Linked DNA regions of Homo sapiens. The protein of the gene in region 2 purifies or fractionates together with the protein of the main gene of each other region. This does not show direct contact. Each region holds a gene or a part of one and is shown on either strand. Other genes may lie near its edges.

Region 1 (7,902 bases), about 25 Mb from region 2:
TAAGTTTGATCTTAGGATGGGTGCTGAAGAGATGGGTTTGCCTTCCAAGGCATGTGCGTGCATGCACACACACACACACACACACACTAATGTGGCCTCGGTGTGTCCTCTACCTCTGTGTTCAGAAGGGAAGCTTCTTCTAGTGTCAGACCTCCTGGGTTGAAGACTGGCACTCCTGCTCAGTAGCTGGTAACTTTGAGCAAGGTTCTTCACCTCTCTCAGCCTCAGTTTCCTCAGTTGTAAACATGGGCAAATCATAGTACCTTTTTCATGTAGTAGTTGTAAGGTTTTGATGAGATAATACAATTAAAAGCCTTAGCACAGAGCAGGCATAGAGTAAGTGCTCATTATTACCTTATTTTTGTAAATATTATCTGACCTCACCATTATCAGCCTGTGACCCTGTTTCTTCTCTTTCAGGTAGGAGGTGTGCAATCTTTGGGGGGAACAGGTGCACTTCGAATTGGAGCTGATTTCTTAGCGCGTTGGTACAATGGAACAAACAACAAGAACACACCTGTCTATGTGTCCTCACCAACCTGGGGTGAGTCTTTCAGCTGAAGTGAGAGGAAAAACAGAAACCAGAGAGAATTATCCTCATGACTCTCCCTGGTTACACAGAAAATGTAATCCAGCCCTAGAACAACTGACTGTTGGGAATGGCTTGAACAGTGGGTTATGGCAGTGCATGAGAAACCTGCTGCTCAAAATCAAGTTAAGAATACTCTTTCTCAAGACTCTTAGTAGACTTGTATCTACCAAGGCTATGTTGAAACTCCCCAGAGGAGGCATAGAATGTAGATGCAGGAAGTATCATTGTAGTAGAATATAAGTCTGGCATTAATGTGACTGGTTGAACTTGTTCTTGGTTACAATCATTCCTCTACATCTTAACCCCCAGCCTGGATGATGCCCAGTGGACATTGAGCCTGGGAGGGCCCTGGAAGCTGACTTGCATCCTTTCCACTCATGCCTCCTAGTGTTTGTAAAGTGCTTAACTTTTTACTTCTTTGCATGCAGAGAATCACAATGCTGTGTTTTCCGCTGCTGGTTTTAAAGACATTCGGTCCTATCGCTACTGGGATGCAGAGAAGAGAGGATTGGACCTCCAGGGCTTCCTGAATGATCTGGAGGTGGGTGATTTAGAGGAAAAAGTAGAGAATTGCATGGTGTCAGGAATCTCAGGCAAAGTCTTTGGACCAGTTGCTAAGTGAAGGAGTCTGAGACACCTTCCCCATACCTGATGGTGGTTTCTGACATAGCATGTAAGAGAGAGGGCACAAAAGAGACATGAAAGAGTGACAAGAATATGGTTGCCCTTTGCCCTCCATCACTGACCAATCTGCTGCTGACTCTGTCTCCCAATATTCCCATCAGTGTCAGAGCTGACATAGCTTCCTTCTCCTCAGAATGCTCCTGAGTTCTCCATTGTTGTCCTCCACGCCTGTGCACACAACCCAACTGGGATTGACCCAACTCCGGAGCAGTGGAAGCAGATTGCTTCTGTCATGAAGGTAACTGCCCCTTCAGAGCATCTCTTAAAAAATAGTATATATTCTTATTTAATGTATGTAGAAGCAATACCTGTTTGCTGTTTGCTGAGGAATTAGGAAAATGGAGAAAAGTCCAAAGAAGAAAATAAGTATTAACTGTAAATTTTATTACCTAAAGAAAGATACTGTTAATGTTTTGGTAGATAGAATGTCAGACTGTGTGTGTGTGTGTGTGTGTGTGTGTGTGTGTGTGTGTCTAGTTTTATGTATATGTTTTACAAAGATGAGATCATTTTGTCTGTACTGTTTTGTGCAACACAATTTGTTTTTCATTTTCACTTCTTTATATACATGTCATTGAATATTTTGCAGCATCATTTTTCATAGCTATATTATATTTCTTTCATGGATATGTCATATTAGGGATGGGGTAAATCATCTGATGAATATTTAGGTTTACTTCAGATTGCTTGATCTGATGAAAAATTATGTAACAAAATTTCCTTTTATTATTTCTTTGGCGTAACTTTCTAGGTGGGAATTCCTAGCTGAAAGTGTGTATATTCTTCCTTAACGAGTTTGTAGAATACTTATTAAGGAACTGCTGTGTATTGGACACTGTGGGAATACACTATTGAATGGAGCAGATGCAGTCCCTACCCTCAAAGACAGACAGCCTGTTTGGGGAGATGGACGAGTACTAAGGCAGCTGTGATGCTGTGAGATAGCTGTGTTGACAGTGTTATAGGGGGGTACATAGCCCAGACTTTGGGCAGTGTATATGTGGGAGTTGGCGGGTTGGTGGCAGGAACCTTCCTGGAAGCAGTGGTTTCTATGTTGAGTCCTGTAGGATGGGGAGGAGCTAAGAAGGCATCAGCAGACAGGGGTTGACAGGGAAGGGATGTGCTCTGCAGAGGACGGAGCATGGTCAGAAGCCCCAGGCAGACATCATGGGGAGTGTGAGTGATGAGGCTAGAGTGAATAGGGGCAGGGTCTGTGCTGAGGCTTGGACTTTATTCTCAGGGCAGTGCGGAGCCACTGAAATCTTGGATGTCGGGGAGTGACATGATTGGATGTGCATGGTCTTAAGGCCACCCTGATGTCATAGCAGGGAATGGGTCAGAGAGAGGCAAGACTAGACAGGCCGTGGGAGCAGTTAGGAGACCATTGCCATAGCCCAGGTAGGAGTTGATGGTGACCTGGATGAAGTAGGTAGCAGTGGGGACAGTGAGATGCAAAAGGATTTGGGAGCTCTGAAGAGACAGGACTGATGAGACTTGGGGAGTGCCAGGATGTGGGGGATGAGCTGCAGAGTTAGGAGTCCAGATTCCCCCCAGTCCCACCTAGTCAAGATAAACCTAAGAGATGGGAATCAAAGTACAACCAAAGATTTGGACAGTTCCGGGGAGGGAAGTGGTGTCCACTCAGAGAGCACAGCTGTAGAAGCAGGTTCCCTGTGGAGAGCTCTTTGAGGAGATGAGTGACAGGAATGGAGGCTACTCTGTTCCCTTCCTCTTGAGTACCTAGCAGAATAGCCCATGAGGAGCCCTGGGGATACCAAGCCTACACTTGACTAAGGCTCTCACGCCAGAAATTCACAGAGGAAAATCCACAATGTAGGACATTGTCTCCTTGCATCAAAAGTAAGCCCTGTTTCTCTAAGCTGAATTGGGACACTCTAGGACAATTTACTTTTAAAAAGTAAAGTTTACGGAAAAGGTTACACTTGTTGGTTGTAGAGAGAAATGGATGTAAAGTGGAGCTTGGGTGCATATAGTCAAGAAATAGGAGAAATGGACAGCATTTGAAATTCCCTCCAGGCATCAGCTGGGGAAGGAAGGCCGGTGTCTGAGGTTGGTGCCAGAAGGATTTCCTGCCCTGACTCACTTTGCTTCCCCGCAGCACCGGTTTCTGTTCCCCTTCTTTGACTCAGCCTATCAGGGCTTCGCATCTGGAAACCTGGAGAGAGATGCCTGGGCCATTCGCTATTTTGTGTCTGAAGGCTTCGAGTTCTTCTGTGCCCAGTCCTTCTCCAAGAACTTCGGGCTCTACAGTGAGTGCTCTCCTGAGGAGTTACAGCCCCACCTCCTCGCATCACTCCCTGCTTCAGCAGCCACAGCTGATTCTGGTCCCTCTCTTTAGATGAGAGAGTCGGGAATCTGACTGTGGTTGGAAAAGAACCTGAGAGCATCCTGCAAGTCCTTTCCCAGATGGAGAAGATCGTGCGGATTACTTGGTCCAATCCCCCCGCCCAGGGAGCACGAATTGTGGCCAGCACCCTCTCTAACCCTGAGCTCTTTGAGGAATGGTAAGGGGCTCCCAGTCTGGTGGGCCGGGGGGTGGGGAGTGCAGAACAGTAATTGTCCCAGTACATTTAACTGGGTCTCTTCCTTTCATTTTGGCAGAAGCAGGATAAAATTACTTTAACTTCTTTGACTCTCAGATATTTGTAAAACAGGGGCTGATATCTACCTCACACGTGCATAACACAACACCTGGAAGACAGGAGGGGGCACTCGATGAATGGTAGTTTTCCCCAATTTCCCCCCCCACCCAGTCTTCCTCTCCATGAAGTTGGAAAACCCAAGAAGGTATTCCCAGCAAAATAGAATATCGAACGTCTAGGCAGTTTAACAGTTTGGGAGCTCTTGGTTTTTATCTGTAATTTACATACACTTTATCTTATTTTAGAACAGTAATTTTTATATAGTAGCTAAATCTGCAATCTTTATTTAGTAAGTCCTGATGAAACATATTGCCCTATTAATATCTATAGCAGCACCTCGGTGAAGCCTGAGTTGAAATGTGAGTGTATTCTAGCCAGTATACCCAAGACTAGCACTAGACTCACTAGTAAATGCAGTCCTTTCCTTCTGCCCCCTAAGTCTCTCTCTCTGGTATGTTAATCCACCCATCCAGACATCCACATGCCATAATAGGCAGGTTATGATCCCATTGTCAGCTGTCGTTTAAATTAGAGTTTTTAAACCTGTGTGTTTTCGGGTACCATCTTTCCTGTCTGGATTGGTATTTACGTCACTGTCCATGCTTCAGGACAGGTAATGTGAAGACAATGGCTGACCGGATTCTGACCATGAGATCTGAACTCAGGGCACGACTAGAAGCCCTCAAAACCCCTGGGACCTGGAACCACATCACTGATCAAATTGGCATGTTCAGCTTCACTGGGTTGAACCGTAAGTGGCCCCCACCACCTCCAGCCCATGCGTGCATGTAGACACACAACATTCCTTTCAGTCGCTCGCCTTGAGCTGAGCTCACTTTCACAGCCTTTGCCTAATTGGGCAGCCATTGCTTTGGACCAGGACAAGTTAGGTTTTCTTAGGGTGTCCCACCATCTCATAAACTCTCTGGGTCTCAGAAGAGTATTGTGGTCTGCCCTGCTGACCCACAGCCAAGATATTTCCGTGTTTGTGGGCTGGGAAGTGGCTCAGAGCCAGCTGGGAGGTAACAGGATTGGTAGCTGGGAGCCTTAATTTATGAAAGGTTCTTATAAATGCTCAGGTACATTTTGGGTTTGCCTTAATCCTGAATATAATGATTATTCAGGGAACTGATTTCTTGACAGGTCTTTCTTATTTCTAGGTATTATCCTCAAAAAGAGATTACAAAGTTATCTCTGCATTTCATAAACAAGAACCTAGATTGGGCTGGGCACAGTGGCTCACACCTGTAATCCCAACACTTTGGGAGGCTGAGGTGGGCAGATCACGAGATCAGGAGATCAAGACCATCCTGGCTAACATGGTGAAACCCCGTGTCTATTAAAAATACAAAAAAATTAGCCGGGCGTGGTGGCAGGCGCCTGTAGTCCCAGCTACTAGGGAGACTGAGGCAGGAGAATCACTTGAATCCAGGAGGCAGAGCTTGCAGTGAGTCGAGACCGCACCACTGCACTCCAGCCTGGGCGACAGAGCGAGACTCCGTCTCAAAAAAAAAAGAAAAGAACCTAGATTGGTGGTTGGAATTAAAAGCTGATTGAAAATCTAGTAGGTGGTCATGCATGGTCTTGGTCAATTGTCAGTAGGGCACATCTGCCATCTGCAGTCCCATCTGATGACAGAAGAGTCATTTCTTCTTTTTTTTTTTGAGATGGAGTCTTGCTCTGTTGCCCAGGCTGGAGTGCAGTGGTGTGATCTCGACTCACTGCAACCTCCGCCTCCCGGCTTCAGGTTATTCTCCTGCCTCAGCCTCCCGAGTAGCTGAGATTACAGGCGTCATTTCTTTAGTAATTCCCACAGTGCAGATGTGGCGACTCACCTGTGTGTCCCAGTGACTCTAGGGAGGGATGTGTGGCTGGCTTGGTTTGTAGGCAGAACGGCAGAGGCCGTGGGGAGGTATTTAACTGGGGCCATCACAGTGCCAGTGTGAAGTGGGCTCAGAAAAATCCAAAGGAAATAAATATAAATGGCAGTTAATAGAGCTTGTATTGTGGACCCCTCAAAATACTTTGGGGTAAAATGAAGCTACCTAAGAAAGTAAAGAAATAGCTCAGTTAGCTGTAGATGTCCTCTTGACTGAGGAACAGAGAATTAGTTCACTCACAATTATAAAAATATTACATGTAACAGAAATATTAATAGTCTTTAGTAGTAATAGTCTAAAAGCTCACAATATGGGAATGTCTCCCTGTAAAATATCCATATCTTCCCATTATCCACAGGAGGAAATTAGTTTTATTAATATCACGAATTGGAAAAATGATGAGAATAGAACTGTGCTTATAACACAAAAGTTATATTTTTAGCGCTTGGCATCATTTGCCCTTATTAAAAACAGGGGTTTTGTTTTCCTCCCAACTTTTTTTTTCTTTTTGAGACAGAGTCTTGCTCTGTTGCTCAGGCTGGAGTGCAGTGGCACAATCTTGGCTCACTGCAACCTCCACCTCCTGGATTCAAGCGATTCTCCTGCCTCAGCCTCTCAAGTAGCTGGGACTACAGGCATGAGCCACCACACCCAGCTAATTTTTGTATTTTTAGTAGAGACAGGGTTTCACCATGTTGACCAGGCTGGTCTCAAACTCCTGACCTTAAGTGATCTACCTGCCTTGGCCTCCCACAGTGCTGGGATTACAGGCGTGAGCCACTGTGCCTGGCCTTTTTTGTTTGTTTGTTTGTTTCAGACACGGTCTCGCTCTGTCACCCAGGGTGGAGTACAGCGGTGCAATCTCGGGCCACTGCAACTTCTGCCCCCTGGGCTCAGGTGATCATTCCACCTCAGTGTCCAAGTGGCTGGGACCACAGGCGTGAACCACCATGCCCGGCTAATTTTTTGTAGAAACGGGGTCTCACCATATTGCTCAGGCTGGTCTCAAACTCCTGAGCTCAAGTGATCTGCCCGCCTCGGTCTCCCAAGGTGCTGGGATTACAGGCATGAGCCACTGCACCTGGCCAGAAAAGTTTTAAACATACAGAAAAGTTGGAGGAATTGTACAGTGAACCCCTATATATCCGCCACCTAGTTTCTACAATTCTCACATTACAATACTTCCTTTGTTATCTTTTTTCTGTCAGAATGGGGCTTTTAACCTGGAATCCCTGGATGTACGTTTAGGAGAACTGTGAAGCCCCTGAAATGATGTTTAAAAAATTGTATATGTGTATTTTGGCCCTGCTCTAGGGAAAGAGTCCATAACTTTTACTAGCTTTTCAAACTGTGACACTTCCCTTCTCTGAAAAAGTAGAAAGGCCTCATTTTTACTAAAACAAAACCAAAAGCCAGGGTAGGAGTCATTTAATCACTGCCTCAGGGCACAGGCTTTTAGAAAGAGTGGCACACCCAGGGCTGTGTTGGCTTGAGGCTCTATCCCCTTGGGTGACCAATTCACACAGGTAAACCTCTTCTTAAGCTTGCTTTCTTTGTTCACTGGTTTGGAGGGGTCAAGGGAAAACTTACCCTTTGCCCTCTGAAAGTTTGCTGGAAATCAGCTGACAAGAGGCAGATTAATAGGAGAAAAGGCATACAAATTTATTTATTTATTTTTGAGTCAGAGTCTCACTCTGTTGCCCAGGCTGGAGTGCGGCGTCACAATCATGGCTTACTGTAGCCTCAACCTCCCAGGCCCAAGCAATCCACCCACCTCAGCCTTCGTAGTACCTGGGACCACAGGTGTGTGCCACCATGCCCGGCTAATTTTTAAGATTTTTTTGTAGAGACAGGGTCTCCTTATGATGCCCAGGCTGGTCGTCAACTCCTGGGCTCAAGCAATCCTCCCTCCTCAGCCTCCCAAAGTACTTGGATTACAGGCATGAGCCACTGTGCCTGGCCAGCATGCAAATTTATTAACTTGCACAGGTGTCTTACAAAATAGAACTCAAATAAATGGCCAGATGATTGATGCTTTTATACCATCTTGGGGTTATAGAAAGAATGGGAGCTTGGAGCTTGC
Region 2 (6,023 bases):
GGTGACAGCGAGACTCTGGGGAAAAGGATGCTTAGTAGAATGCTTAGTGCTGAGAAATGACATGGTGAATTGACTGTCTTTCAGGTGTCTGCAGTGCTGTGTGATGATGACATCATGCTGACCATTAAGCCAGGGGAGCATGGGTCCACATACGGTGGCAATCCACTAGGCTGCCGAGTGGCCATCGCAGCCCTTGAGGTAAAGACTGATACAGCCACACAGTGTCTATTCTTTAAAGCAATGTTGAAGTGATTTTTAATTTGGGCCCACTGGTATAATAAAAAATTCAATAAGAATGCCAAATATTAGAAAACATGAAGTATAGAGGAAAAATTTTAGGAACAAGATATTCTCAAAAAGTAATTTAAACTTGGCCTAGTAGACTGGATTTCCTCCGTGGGCTTCCTGAGTTCACAGTCACCTGGCGCTTTGAGTTCTTCGGCCCTGGCTGGCCCTCATAGAACTCTCAACTGTGACCCACCTACCAGACCCGTCTTTTTGCTTAGCAAGCAAGTCTTCTTTCAAGTGTGGATTTATAATGTTTTCAGACTGATTTTTTAAGTGCCTGCTGAAGGTATACAATTATTATGTAATCTCTGAGGACAGATCTTTGTGAGGGGGGAAGAAACTATTGCAGTTTAGGAATTACATTTCGTCCATTGATGTATTCAATTAATGACAGTATGTGAGTTGCATTAAATAAACTTTAATCCTTATTTTGCCATGAATGATTGGCAATAGATTTGTGATGAAAGCAAGACTCTGAGCTAGTGTATGTTTAATTAGAAACTAATACAGGCTTTGAAAAATAGCAATGAAAGTTAAGTTCCTCTGGTATTTTATCTAGTCATGTTTTTCCTGTGTTTACAGTCCCCGTTGTCCTCCAAAAAACAAAAAAAGGACAGTCTTAATATTTGTATAATTTTTCTTTAAACGTAGGTTTTAGAAGAAGAAAACCTTGCTGAAAATGCAGACAAATTGGGCATTATCTTGAGAAATGAACTCATGAAGCTACCTTCTGATGTTGTAACTGCCGTAAGAGGAAAAGGATTATTAAACGCTATTGTCATTAAAGAAACCAAAGGTATGGAGATAAAACATTTACTCAAGATAATTTTTTAAGGAAGACCTAAAATACACTTGGTATTTAATTTAATTAATTTATTTATTTTTCGAGACGGAGTCTTGCTCTGTCTCCTAGGCTGCAGTGCCGTGGCGCAATCTTGGCTCACTGCACTCTGCCTCCTGGGTTCAAGCAATTCTCTGCCTCAGCCTCCTGAGTAGCTGGGATTACAGGCGCCTGTCACCACGCCCAGCTAATCTTTATATTTTTAATAGAGATGGGGTTTCATAATGTTGGCCAGGCTGATCTCAAACTCCTGACCTCGTGATCCACCTGCGTTGGCCTCCCAAAGTGTTGGGATTATAGGCGTGAGCCCACCGCGCCCGGCCACACTTTTTTTTTTTTTTTTTTTTTAAGATGGAGTCTTGCTCTGTTGCCAGGCTGGAGTGCAATGGCGCCATTTTGGCTGACTGCAACTTCCGATGCCCCGGTTCAAGCGATTCTCCTGCCTCAGCCTCCCGAGTAGCTGGTATTACAGGCACGTGCCAACACGCCCAGCTAATTTTTGTATTTTTGGTAGAGATGGGGTTTCACCATGTTGGCCAGGGTGGTCTCGATCTCCTGACCTCGTGATCCGCCTGCCTCAGCCTCTGAAAGTGCTGAGATGACAGGCATGAGCCACTGCTCCTGGCCACACTTGGTATTTTAATTGGGTGTTGGGATGTTCTGTTTGAAACTGCTGACTGACATAATGACCAAACCTTTTAGACAGATTATTGTCTGATTTATAATTATATTAAGAGTATAAAAAATATAGCTCTTTTCTAAATGAAGGCACATTTAACCAATTTGACCCTTGTTCCTTTAAGACACTTATTTTTCTGCCTTAAATTAGTCATGCAGTATTTAGAGAGTTCAAGTTTTTTTGTTGGTGAGTCTGGACTTGAAAGTGTCCTCTTTGCTATCCTTCCCTCCCTCACTTTGATGCTTTGTGTCAGTAGAGGTTATAGGAGCAGCAGAAATAATGATATGAATGACAGTTATGGGGTCAATAATAAAAATAATGCTGGCTGTCACTTAATTGGGTGTTTGATGTTTTAGTACATCCTTTGTAACCCTTAGGTGTTCCTTGCTGGATTTTCTTGTGATAACTCTTCCTTTTAAAGCAACGATTCCAACCTCCCAACCTTGGCTGCACTTAAAGAATCACCTGAGGGGCCGGGCGCGGTGTCTTATGCCTGTAATCCCAGCACTTTGGGAGGCCGAGACGGGTGGATCACGAGGTTAGGAGATCGAGACCATCCTGGCTAACACAGTGAAACCCCATCTCTACTAAAAATACAAAAAAATAGCCAGGCGAGGTGGTGGGTGCCTGTAGTCCCAGCTACTCAGGAGGCTGAGGCAGGAGAATCGCTTGAACCTGGGAGGTGGAGCTTGCAGTGAGCTGAGATTGCGCCGCTGCACTCCAGCCTGGGCGGCAGAGTGAGACTCCGTCTCAAAAAAAAAAAAAAAAAAAAAAAAAGAATCACCTGGGGAGCTTCTTAAAAAAATGAGTCAAAGCCTGGCCTTACCCCAGGGATTCTGATTTGACGGATCTGGGACGGGGCACAGGCATTAGCAATAGCCTTTAAGGTGATTCTGATGTGCAGCCAGGTTGAGAATCGCTGCTATAATATGTTGAGCTCAGGAAGCGAGTCCCTTTTTGGAATGTGTAGTGTTCACTGGGTTTTGAGTATTGCCCATTTTATGTCAGTTAATCATCTGTATCATACCCAAGTTCTTTTTTTTCTTTTTTAGAATTTTATTTATTTTATTTATTTTATTTTTTGAGACAGTGCCTTGCTCTGTTGGGCTGGAGTGTCTGTCGCCAGGCTGGAGTACAGTGGCATGATCTTGGCTCACTGCGACCTCCACTTCCTGGGTTCAAGCGATTCTCCTGCCTCAGCCTCCTGAGTAGCTGGGACTACAGGCATGTGCCACACCACGACAGGCTAATTTTTGTATTTTTATTAGAGATGGGGTTTCACCATGTTGGCCAGGATGGTCTCGATCTCTTGACCTCATGATCTGCCCACCTCGGCCTCCCAAAGTGCTGGGATTACAGGTGTGAGCCACTGCATCCAGCCTATACCCAAGTTCTTTTGCATTAGTTCCTTGTGTGATTAATACAGCAGCCTTAGCACATTTTTTTTTTTTTTTTTGGCTTGGTCTTTTTCATTTATGAAAAACTATGATATGTCTAATCATATCATTCAAACCTAGTTATGTGCTTGCTGAAAAGTGAAGAGTAACTTCATTTTTAGGAGTAAAAACAAAGCAAGCTTGCAGCTCCAAGCTTCCCTTTCTTTTTTTTTTGAGACGGTGTCTTGCTCTGTCACCAGGCTGGAGTGCAGTGGCGCGATCTCCGCTCACTGCAGCCTCCGCCTCCTGGTTCAAGCGATTCTCCTGCCTCAGTCTCCCGAGTAGCTGGGACTACAGGTGCGCACCATGATGCCCAGCTAATTTTTGTATTTTTAGTAGAGACGGGTTTCATAATGTTGGCCAGGATGGTTTCAATCTCTTGACCTCGTGATCCACCCACCTCGGCCTCCCAAAGTGCTGGGATTACAGGCATAAGCCACCGCTCCCAGCCCAAGCTTCCCTTAGTTGAGCAAGTTCTGTTAATTTTGTTTTGCCAGGCTGCACTTTGCCCATACATACGGCAAGGGATGTTTAAACGTTTATCTTTGAGCATGTACGTTTTACTATTTTTCTTTAGATTGGGATGCTTGGAAGGTGTGTCTACGACTTCGAGATAATGGACTTCTGGCCAAGCCAACCCATGGCGACATTATCAGGTTTGCGCCTCCGCTGGTGATCAAGGAGGATGAGCTTCGAGAGTCCATTGAAATTATTAACAAGACCATCTTGTCTTTCTGAGGGTAGCCAGCTGTTTTCAGTGGTCCCTGGGAGCCAGCTGGAGACAGGTGGTCCTGTAAAAGCTTTATTCCTAATGTGGGCACATTCCACTCCCATGAGTCTTCAAAAACTTTTTTTTTGAATATATTTTTTTCAGTTGATACATAATAGAACAACGTTTATGAACCTGCCGTTTGCTTTGTAACGTAACTAAATAATGTAATGGCATCTATATTCAGTTGAAGTGTTTTGATGTGCATGTGTACTTCCTAAGGTGAAATGCATCTATATACAGACAGCCTCTAAATCAAGTCCTTCAGTATAATTGATATATGTTTTTATAATTTCCTCACTGGTATAAGTGTTTCATATTTGAAAAAGTTATCTCTGGGTATTGCATAAAAGGCTTCATCTTATAAAGTGAAATCATTGTTATTGAATTTTAGGAAGGATTAATGGTTAAGTGTATATAAAATACTAATATTAAGTAAACTTCATATTGGCCAACACCAGGGTTGTATTCTATGGATGTCATTATTTTGAATTAAGAATTAGTGTTTAACATTCCTAAATTGTTTTGAGTGCTTGATTATAATTTGTAAAAAATGTTTATTTTCAATACTTCTTTAAATTTAAAATAAAGCTTATATTTCAAATGTCTGTTTTGTGATGATTATTCACCTTAAAAGGAAGAAGCTGAGGCAAAATTAATATAGAATGTTTAGGTGGGCCAAGGTTGGGGACTGCAGCTCGGGACACACTTCCAGGTTGCCCTGGAGAGTGCTCCAGAGAACACTTCTTAAAGAAAAAAGGATAGATCAGCTGCTCTTATACCCTCTACTGACACAAGGTGAAGGGGTGATTACAAAAGTTGTTTATCAGGAATTCTCATTGGCTTACAGAACTAACCTTGGTTAGTGATTGGCTATATGCTGTTGAACTACAGGGTATATGGCATTTGATAGATACTTGGCTTCAAGAGGTAATTATGTAGCTTGGGAGAGAGTGACCTGACTATGATTTCATTCTATTGCCTCTCTGGGCCTGATAATTTAGTTTTTATTTTTTGAGATGGAGTCTCTCTCTGTCGCCCAGGCTGCAGTGCAGTGGCACGATCTCAGCTCACTGCAACCTCCACCTCCTGGGCTCACATGATTCTCCTGTCTCGGCCTCCCGAATAGCTGGGATTACAGGTGTGCACCACCACACCCAGCTAATTTTAGTATTTTTAGTAAAGATAGGGTTTCATTAAGTTGACCAGGCTGGTCTTGAACTTCTGGCCTCAGGCGATCCCCCCAACTTGGCCTCCTAAAGTGCTGGGATTACAGGCATCAGCCCCTGTGCCTGGCCTGGGCCTGATAATTTAAAGGGGCTCACGTTCTTCAGTTACAAGATTTCTTTATTCCCCATGTCACTATGCTATTACTGCAGTGTTATCAGTTACATTTTTTTTTTTTTTTGAGATGGAGTCTTGCTCTGTTGCCCAGGCTGGAGTGCAGTGGCGCAATCTCGGCTCACTGCAAGCTCCGTGTCCTGTGTTCACGCCATTCTCCTGCCTCAGCCTCCCCAGTAGCTAGGACTATAGATGCCCGCCACCACGCCCGGCTAATTTTTTGTATTTTTAGTAGAGATGGGGTTTCACTGTGTTAGCCAGGATGGTCTTGATCTCCTGACTTTGTGATCCACCTGCCTCGGCCTCCCAAAGTGCTGGGATTACAGGCGTGAGCCACTGCGCCCAGCCTATCAGTTACATTTTTAAGCTTTTTGAGATTTATTTATTCCATGTGTTTTCTTTTTTTTGTATTCCTTTTTTTTTTTTGAGACAGAGTCTTGCTCTGTTGCCTAGGCTGGAATGCAATGGCGTGATCTCAGCTCACTGCAACCTCCGCCTCCCAGGTTCAAATGATTCTTGTGCCTCAGCCTCCCAAGTAGCTGGGACAATAGGCCTACACCACCATGCCCAGCTAATTTTTGTATTTTTAGTACAGATGGGGTTTCACCATGTTGGTCAGGCTGGTCTCGAACTCCTGACCTCAGGTGATCCACCCACCTCGGCCTCCTA
Region 3 (7,418 bases), on a different chromosome or scaffold from region 2:
GTTCTCAGCAAACTAACACAAAAATAGAAAACCAAACACCACATGTTCTCACTTGTAAGTGGGAGGTGAACAATGAAAACACATGGACAAGGGGATGGGGGTGGGGGAGGGATAGCATTAAGAGAAATACCTAATGTAGATGATGGGTTGATGGGTGCAGCAAACCACCATGGCACATGTATACCTATGTAACAAACCTGCATGTTCTGCACATGTACCCCAGAACTTAATTAAAAAAAAAAATCCCAATAACTAGCAAAAATGGTCATACCCCATCATCTACTAGAGCAATTATGTAGTATTTTACTTAGAACAGTAGAAACACTCTCCATTCCTTTTCAGCTAAACAACTAAAGATCTCACTTTGAAATTACTTTTTTTTTTTTTTTGAGACGGAGTTTCGCTCTGTCGCCAGGCTAGAATGCAGTGGCATGATCTCAGCTCACCGCCTCCTGGGTTCAAGTGATTCTGCCTCAGCCTCCTGAGTAGTTGGGATTACAGGGGCCTGCCACCACACCTGGCTAATTTTTATATTTTTAGTAGAGATGGGGTTTTACCACATTGGTCAGGTTGGTCTCAAACTCCTGACCGCAGGTGATCTGCCCGCCCCGGCCTCCCAAAGTGCTGGGATTACAGGAGTGAGCCACCGCTCCCAGCCAGTTGAAATTACTAATTTTAATCAGTTCAATGAAGTGGACAATTAATTTCACTCTTCACAAGCCACAAAAATATTGACAGCTTAGTAGATAACAGTAAGTGAACACTTAAAACTTGTTTTATTCCTAGGACTTTATTCCCCATACAGATAAATTTGCATTCTCATACTGAATGTAAACACTTAAAGATGGATTTAACTCTACAGCTAGAATTCCATATTAAATTATATTTCACTATTCCCTAACTAAAAACTTTTTTTTCCCTGAGTAAGGGATATGTTGAGATTTACATAAACAGCACTTCACATGATACCGGGATTTCAAATTTTTAAAAAGATGCAGAGTTCACTTCCAATAATGGCAAAGTAGCACACAGATATCAGACCAACCCTCCTGCTGATAGCAACTGCAAACTCTGAACAAATATATTTTAGAAAAAACTAAAGGCACTGGAAACAACTATAAACAAGTGGAAAGTAGAGGGAAGTTGGCACTTAAAAAGTGAACAGCACTGGCTCAATGTCTCATTTTTAACGGGTTCTCACTTGAGGGGGAAACAAAAGCCAAGTTTTATTGGTTAAGGATCAGAAGGCAGAATATGGGGCAACCACAACAGCTGGAACATAAAGGGGAAACCCCCAAAAAACAGGAGGCACAGAAGGGGCAGACTTCCTTCTGCCCAAACTCTGGTTGACCCCTGAACTACACACTTGCATGGGAAAGACTTCCAGCAGCATAGCTAAAGCTAAAACAACTGAGAAGAGATTTCAGCTGCTGCCACCTACAAACAAGACAGAGTGTGGAGTTGGTGTTCAGCCAAGTTAACTGCCTCCTAAGACAACAATCAATTTTCTTTAGAAGTATGTAACAGAATCCAGGGTCATTATGTCACTCATGAGCATGAGACAATCTATGCTATCTATACCAAATTTCAGAACTACTTAATCTGAATTATTCTTAAATTTAGTTACAATATGCAAAAGCCTACTTAGCATTTAGTACTTTGTTACTTAAGTTTCCTCAGGACATGGCCATTTTAAACACCACACATCCAATTTTACAACACTCTTTAAATAAACAGTCATTAACCCAGCCAAGGAAAACACAGATTAAAGACTCCCTTATGTTGTACTTCTCCAAAAGTATATATTAAACATTTAGTAGGTGTATCTAAAATAGATGAAAGGATGATGACCTTTAAAATGCCTTAATATTGTCCTATAACATGAAAATAAAGATACATTCAGGCCTAGAAAAGAAATTAGAATATACACTAGAAGTAGTCATAAAAAAAACTATGACCATCTCAACACGTACTCATGATAACCAGTAAATGAATATTTAAGACGTTTATTTCAGTATCTTCATTCCCCACTGTAATACATTTGAATGCCCACGTATTTGAGTTCCGTAAATAGACTCTCTTAATTTGGGTAACTATATAATTACCCTTCAGAGTTGCAGACAACAATGGAAGCTTTAAAACCTCTTCAACACAAATGCTACCCCTAAAATGAAAGAATTTAGAGGTTAAATAAAACAAGTGAGAGACCGTTTACTTACATCAGTTCGGTTTATAGACATTTGAATCATATCTGAATGACTGACTTGTTTCCAATGTGAAAACCAAATTAAAAATAACTTGATCACTGTGCTTCAAACACAACTGTTCACATATCAAATTCTAGCTCCAGCCATGTAAAATTCAACTTTTCTGTATCAGAGAAAAAAGCTATTTAAATTCAGGGGCATTGAATCTTTCATGAACAGCATGAAAATATGAGTTGACGGAGATATTCCAGGATGCTACAATAAGTAGCTTTTTGTCTTACACATTAGTGCACTGAAACAAAATACTAAATTTATGTAAAATATAGATATAAGAGTATTCCATTTTGTCCAAACCTATTAAATACCTTCCAAAAGTTTCATAATTCAGTCCTAGAAATTCTTGGAGCTGTGAGAATATCCTGTTCAGGAATGTGACTTCTACAAAAGCTCCCAGGAAATTTCAGAAAAAAATATATATAATCTTCTAATTCAAAAGTTGATTGATTTGCCAAATGACGCAGCAAGATTTGCTTCTCTAAAAGCTTCTGATAAGGTCTGCAAGGGAAGAAATTTAAAATTAAAATCCAAATATTTGTGGGTCAGAAGAAAATTTAGGCAACCATCAATTCTATATGTTGTTAATAATTACCGGATGTGCATGACAGACTCTAGCTATATCTTCACAGGATGCTCCATATTCCAAAGCAAGAGCAGCTTCATTTACCATTTCTCCAGCACCCTTTAAAATAACAAGCCAAGTAAATTTGCTTCCAAGGCAAAAACTACATGCTAATAGGATAGCAATTGTTGAGGGGAAGCTTTTAGATCTTAAAAACGCCTTAAATCTGTTTCTTTATCAGTTGAAGAAAAGTCAGGAAAAGCTTAATAGAAAAGGTGACACAGAAGAGCTTGGGCTCTGGAGCCAAAGGGCCTTCAATTCATATCTACCACTTACTACCTTAACCATTCATTGGTTCTTTGTGCTTCATTCAGTTTCTTCACCTCAAAAATAACAGCACCTATTTCAAAAAGCTGATGTAAAAATAACAAAATGTATACTAAAGTGACACAGCACTCAAATATTCTATTCTCATTATTGTTACATCAGATACAAGAGATATCTACAAGAAAGATACATACTTTAGGCTCAGTGGTAGGAAAGGCTTCCCTTAGGAGGTAACATTTGAGCTGAGACCTGAATAATAAGGAGCCAGCCATTCAAAGATCTGGAGGCAGAACAGTCTAAGCAGAGGGTATCTTAAGCACAAAGGCCCTAAAATGCAAATATTTGGTCTGTTGTGAAAATGAGAGAAGGCCCATGTGACATGGCATTAATGAGTAAAAGAGAGCAGAAAAAGAAGAGGTCAGAGAAGTAGGCACAAACAGATTCAGTGAGGCCTTGGATGTAACAATCTGAAGTTGAAAAGCACCACTGGAGGATTTTAAGGGGCATAATCTGGTGTATGTTTTAAAGAGAGAATCTTGGCTGCAGGACAAAGTAGATGATACAGTGGGCAAGACTGTGAGAGTGCTGCTGGTATCCTTCTAGAAATGATGCACAGAGAGCCATATTCAAAGTTTTGCTGGAAATGAGCAACCTCAGACTAACACCAGGTGGTTTATAATTAATAAACAGCAATGCTTTCTAGAAATCTTAATGGGATTTCTCTGGTTTTACAATACTCACTGGTCCAAGAATATGTGCTCCCAGTACTCTGTCTGTCGATTTCTGCCCAAGGATCTTCACCATGCCATCTGTGTCAGCATTTGTCTTAGCTCTGCTGTTAGCAGCAAATGGGAATTTCCCAACTTTGTACTCAATACCCTGTGACAGTCAGAAAAAAAGAATCTACGTAACTGCCAGAAAAGTTCTTTCCAATTTGTAAAATCATCTACCATTTGTTCAGAAAATAAATCCCAAGAAGGGAATTGTTCGCAAAGCACATAGAAGGAAAGGAAAGACCAGAAGACTGGTTAATGAACTATATCTCAGGCACGAATACAAGCAAATACAAATGTCTGTCCATCTGGTTATATTTCAAAGCCAAATATAAAAGATCTGGAATTACTAGTTTTTTAATATAGGCAACTTCTCTTCCTCTCAATTACTGCTGATAAATCTGTGAATGATCTCTTTATAATGCTAACAAGGGAAAAATATATAAGCTAAACAATATTTCACAGCTGTTAAATATATTAGCATAATGATAAAATGCTGTTTCTCAACCACCAATGTCATTGGCACAACTCACACATTGGCTTAAAACCACCCATGTTCAGACTTACCTCTTCTTTCAACTGCTCTTCTGATTTGCCAACCCAAGCAACTTCAGGGTGTGTGTAAATCACTGATGGCACACAATTGTAGTCAATGTGCACAGCACCACCAGCCATTCCTTCAACACAGATAATGCCTTCATCCTCTGCTTTGTGAGCCAGCATTGGACCAGCAACTACATCACCAATGGCATAGATACTACCACAGAAATCAAAAGAAACACAATGAATTTCTGAAATCACAGCTACTTACCTTCAGTTACATTATGGTAACAAAAGTTTCCAGTAAACAAGTCACCAAAAAATACATCAAATGCAGCTCTTCAAAAATCTATGAATTCAGCTTATCTTTGAGTAAAATTCAGTTATTTTTTATTTTACATTTTGTAAGTTTACTATTCTTCCCCAAAGCCAATACATATTTTAAGCATAAAAATCTTACTTTTCAAAATACTGTTTGAAATCAATTTTAAAATTACTGAAAATGCAGACAATTATCCAACTTACTTTGGAATTTTAGTTTGAAATCTGGTATTGACTGGAATTCTACCTCTGGGATCTAGTTCAATTCCCAGCTCTTCTAGTCCCAAATTCTTAGTAAAGGGTCGTCGGCCAATGCAAACCAAGAGTACATCACAAGTGATAACTTCAGCTTTACCACCAGAAGCAGCTTCAATACTAGATAACAAACAGTGTATAAATGTTAAATACACACCTACATAAATTGATAGGCTTAGAAATTTAAGGCCAGCAATTTCTCAAGTGTTGATGACATTTTCATTTTTGTTTTGTTTTGTTTTTGAGACAGAGTCTTGCTCTGTCGCCAGACTGGAGTACAGTGGTGCAATCTCGGCTCACTGCAACCTCCACCTCCCAGGTTCCAGAGATTCTCCTGCCTCAGCCTCCCTAGTAGCTGGGACTACAGGCACGCGCCACCACGCCCAGCTAATTTTTGTATTTTTAGTAGAGACGGGGTTTCACCATGTTGCCAGGCTGGTCTTGATCTCTTGACTTCATGATCTGCCCATCTCAGCCTCCCAAAATGCTGGGATTACAGGTGTGAGCCACCATGCCCAGCCGGCACTGATGACATTTTTAACAATATAAGTTTATTTGAATATAAACATAAGAGTCAGACAATGAAAGAGATCTATCATTAAAATCTAGAGGTCTGTTATTAAAATCTCACAAAAACCACAGTATAATAAAACAGCAGTTAAGAATACAGGTCTTTGAGTCACAGAAATCCAAATTCAACTACTGACTGCCACCCACTAGCTGTGTGACAAGTTAGTCATTAATTAGTCAATGAATTCAGCTTCTTATCTTTGAGTAAAAGTCATTAAACTATTTAAATACTATTAACTATTTAATTTAAATATTTATTTAAAAACTAATTCAATAAGTTAAATGCCATTAAAGTATTTAATCAGTAGAGTACCAGACATATAGTAAGCAATCTTTTATTATTGATTTCCCCATGTATCTGCCTAAAAATATTGATTCAATTTTACTTATTATTGGGAATTTAAATTTTTCTGAATGTACTATAAGAAGGCACAACAATGAGAATATTGGATTCTCTTTCTAGCATTAACCTAATCATAAATTTCAATGTGCTAATGCAATAATTTGATAAGCAACTGAGTTATATTAAGTAATAAAATGACCTTAAGTTAGAAAAAACCCTATATTTGCTAAACTGATTTTGAAACTTGAGTGTTTTGCTTAAAGAGACAGGGATGATACATCAAAAACAAATGATGTATACTTACGAAACATCAATTTTTCCATCTGACTTCTTGGTAGCACCAGTAACCTTTGTATTCAATTTAAATTTAAACCCCTGTTTTTGAAGGATGCGTTGAAAGTTTTTAGATATCTCCATATCAATTCCAACTCCACCTACATGACCTAAAAATTCAACTGCTGTCACATCTGCACCAAGTCTTTGCCAAACTGAACCCTGCAAATAAATTAAAAAAACCCAATAATCATAAAAGTTTCTATAGCAAATGTTTACGAAATCATCTTAATAATTTATTGTAAAACATTTTCTTCTTTCGCTAGTATGTTCCTATGAGAAGCTCCGAGGTTTAAAATTGACCCTGTGTTAAATATGTATAACTTCATACATTTATTAACTTACTCATTCAACATTTGTTGAACATCTACTACATGGTAGGCAATATTTTAGCTTCTAGGCATACATTAGTAAACAAAGCAAAAATCTCTGTTCTCAGGGATCTTATATTCTGGCAGGGGACATAGACAAATATGTAAAATTCATAACAGAGAATAAAGTGCTACAGGAAAAATAAAACAGGAAGTAGAACTAGGACCACTGATTACTGGGATTACAATTTTAAATAGCACGTTTGGGGAAAGCCTCACTGGGAGTGACATTTGCACAAAACTTGAAGGAGTGAGGCAATGAACTACCCAGTTAACTGGGGCAAGAGTGTTGCTCTAGGCAGAGGGAAACAGCAAGTACAAAAGTCTTGAGGAAAAGGAAACAGGTTACTAAATCACTGATGTTTGCAGAATATTAAACTGGCTTCCTATTTTCTTTTCTCAACAAAGGACAAATGTTTACTTTTTCATTCAAATTATAATTTAAACTGAATGCTAGTTTATTTTAACATTTTGACAATTAGTATAACTTCTAAATAATTATATATTAAACAATACATAACTGGCAAGATGAACATAATTTCACAGCATTAAATATGAAAAACCATGAACATATCCTTTGCAAGAATGTATATTAAAATCATCTGGTAATTCAAATGAACTATAAAAGTTTACCTTCCCTAAATTAGGTGTGGGCGTTCATTTAAAAAATCTCATTAATTTCTAGTATGAAGACTGAGTTAACTAGAGGCAATATAGTGACACTAAAAATCTAACAATACGTATATATAAAAGTTAACT

Evidence for each region.
Region 1: the proteins of OAT (region 2) and GOT1 fractionate together in Homo sapiens (co-fractionation; 2 studies listed by BioGRID). This does not show direct contact.
Region 3: the proteins of OAT (region 2) and DLD purify together in Homo sapiens (affinity purification with mass spectrometry; 2 studies listed by BioGRID, with this or other methods). This does not show direct contact.

The regions. Positions count from the first base shown.
Region 1 is NC_000010.11:99,399,368-99,407,269, reverse strand, and holds part of GOT1 (aspartate aminotransferase, cytoplasmic), read left to right. Parts: intron 1-420; coding exon 421-544; intron 545-1,020; coding exon 1,021-1,133; intron 1,134-1,409; coding exon 1,410-1,514; intron 1,515-3,395; coding exon 3,396-3,546; intron 3,547-3,635; coding exon 3,636-3,801; intron 3,802-4,547; coding exon 4,548-4,690; intron 4,691-7,902. UniProt on the Homo sapiens protein: Biosynthesis of L-glutamate from L-aspartate or L-cysteine. Important regulator of levels of glutamate, the major excitatory neurotransmitter of the vertebrate central nervous system. Acts as a scavenger of glutamate in brain neuroprotection.
Region 2 is NC_000010.11:124,395,901-124,401,923, reverse strand, and holds the end of OAT (ornithine aminotransferase, mitochondrial isoform 1 precursor), read left to right. Parts: intron 1-84; coding exon 85-198; intron 199-939; coding exon 940-1,084; intron 1,085-3,821; coding exon 3,822-3,982; 3' UTR 3,983-4,621; downstream 4,622-6,023. UniProt on the Homo sapiens protein: Catalyzes the reversible interconversion of L-ornithine and 2-oxoglutarate to L-glutamate semialdehyde and L-glutamate.
Region 3 is NC_000007.14:107,914,538-107,921,955, reverse strand, and holds the end of DLD (dihydrolipoyl dehydrogenase, mitochondrial isoform 1 precursor), read right to left. Parts: intron 6,451-7,418; coding exon 6,260-6,450; intron 5,163-6,259; coding exon 4,992-5,162; intron 4,684-4,991; coding exon 4,494-4,683; intron 4,033-4,493; coding exon 3,895-4,032; intron 2,947-3,894; coding exon 2,857-2,946; intron 2,763-2,856; coding exon 2,697-2,762; 3' UTR 758-2,696; downstream 1-757. UniProt on the Homo sapiens protein: Lipoamide dehydrogenase is a component of the glycine cleavage system as well as an E3 component of three alpha-ketoacid dehydrogenase complexes (pyruvate-, alpha-ketoglutarate-, and branched-chain amino acid-dehydrogenase complex).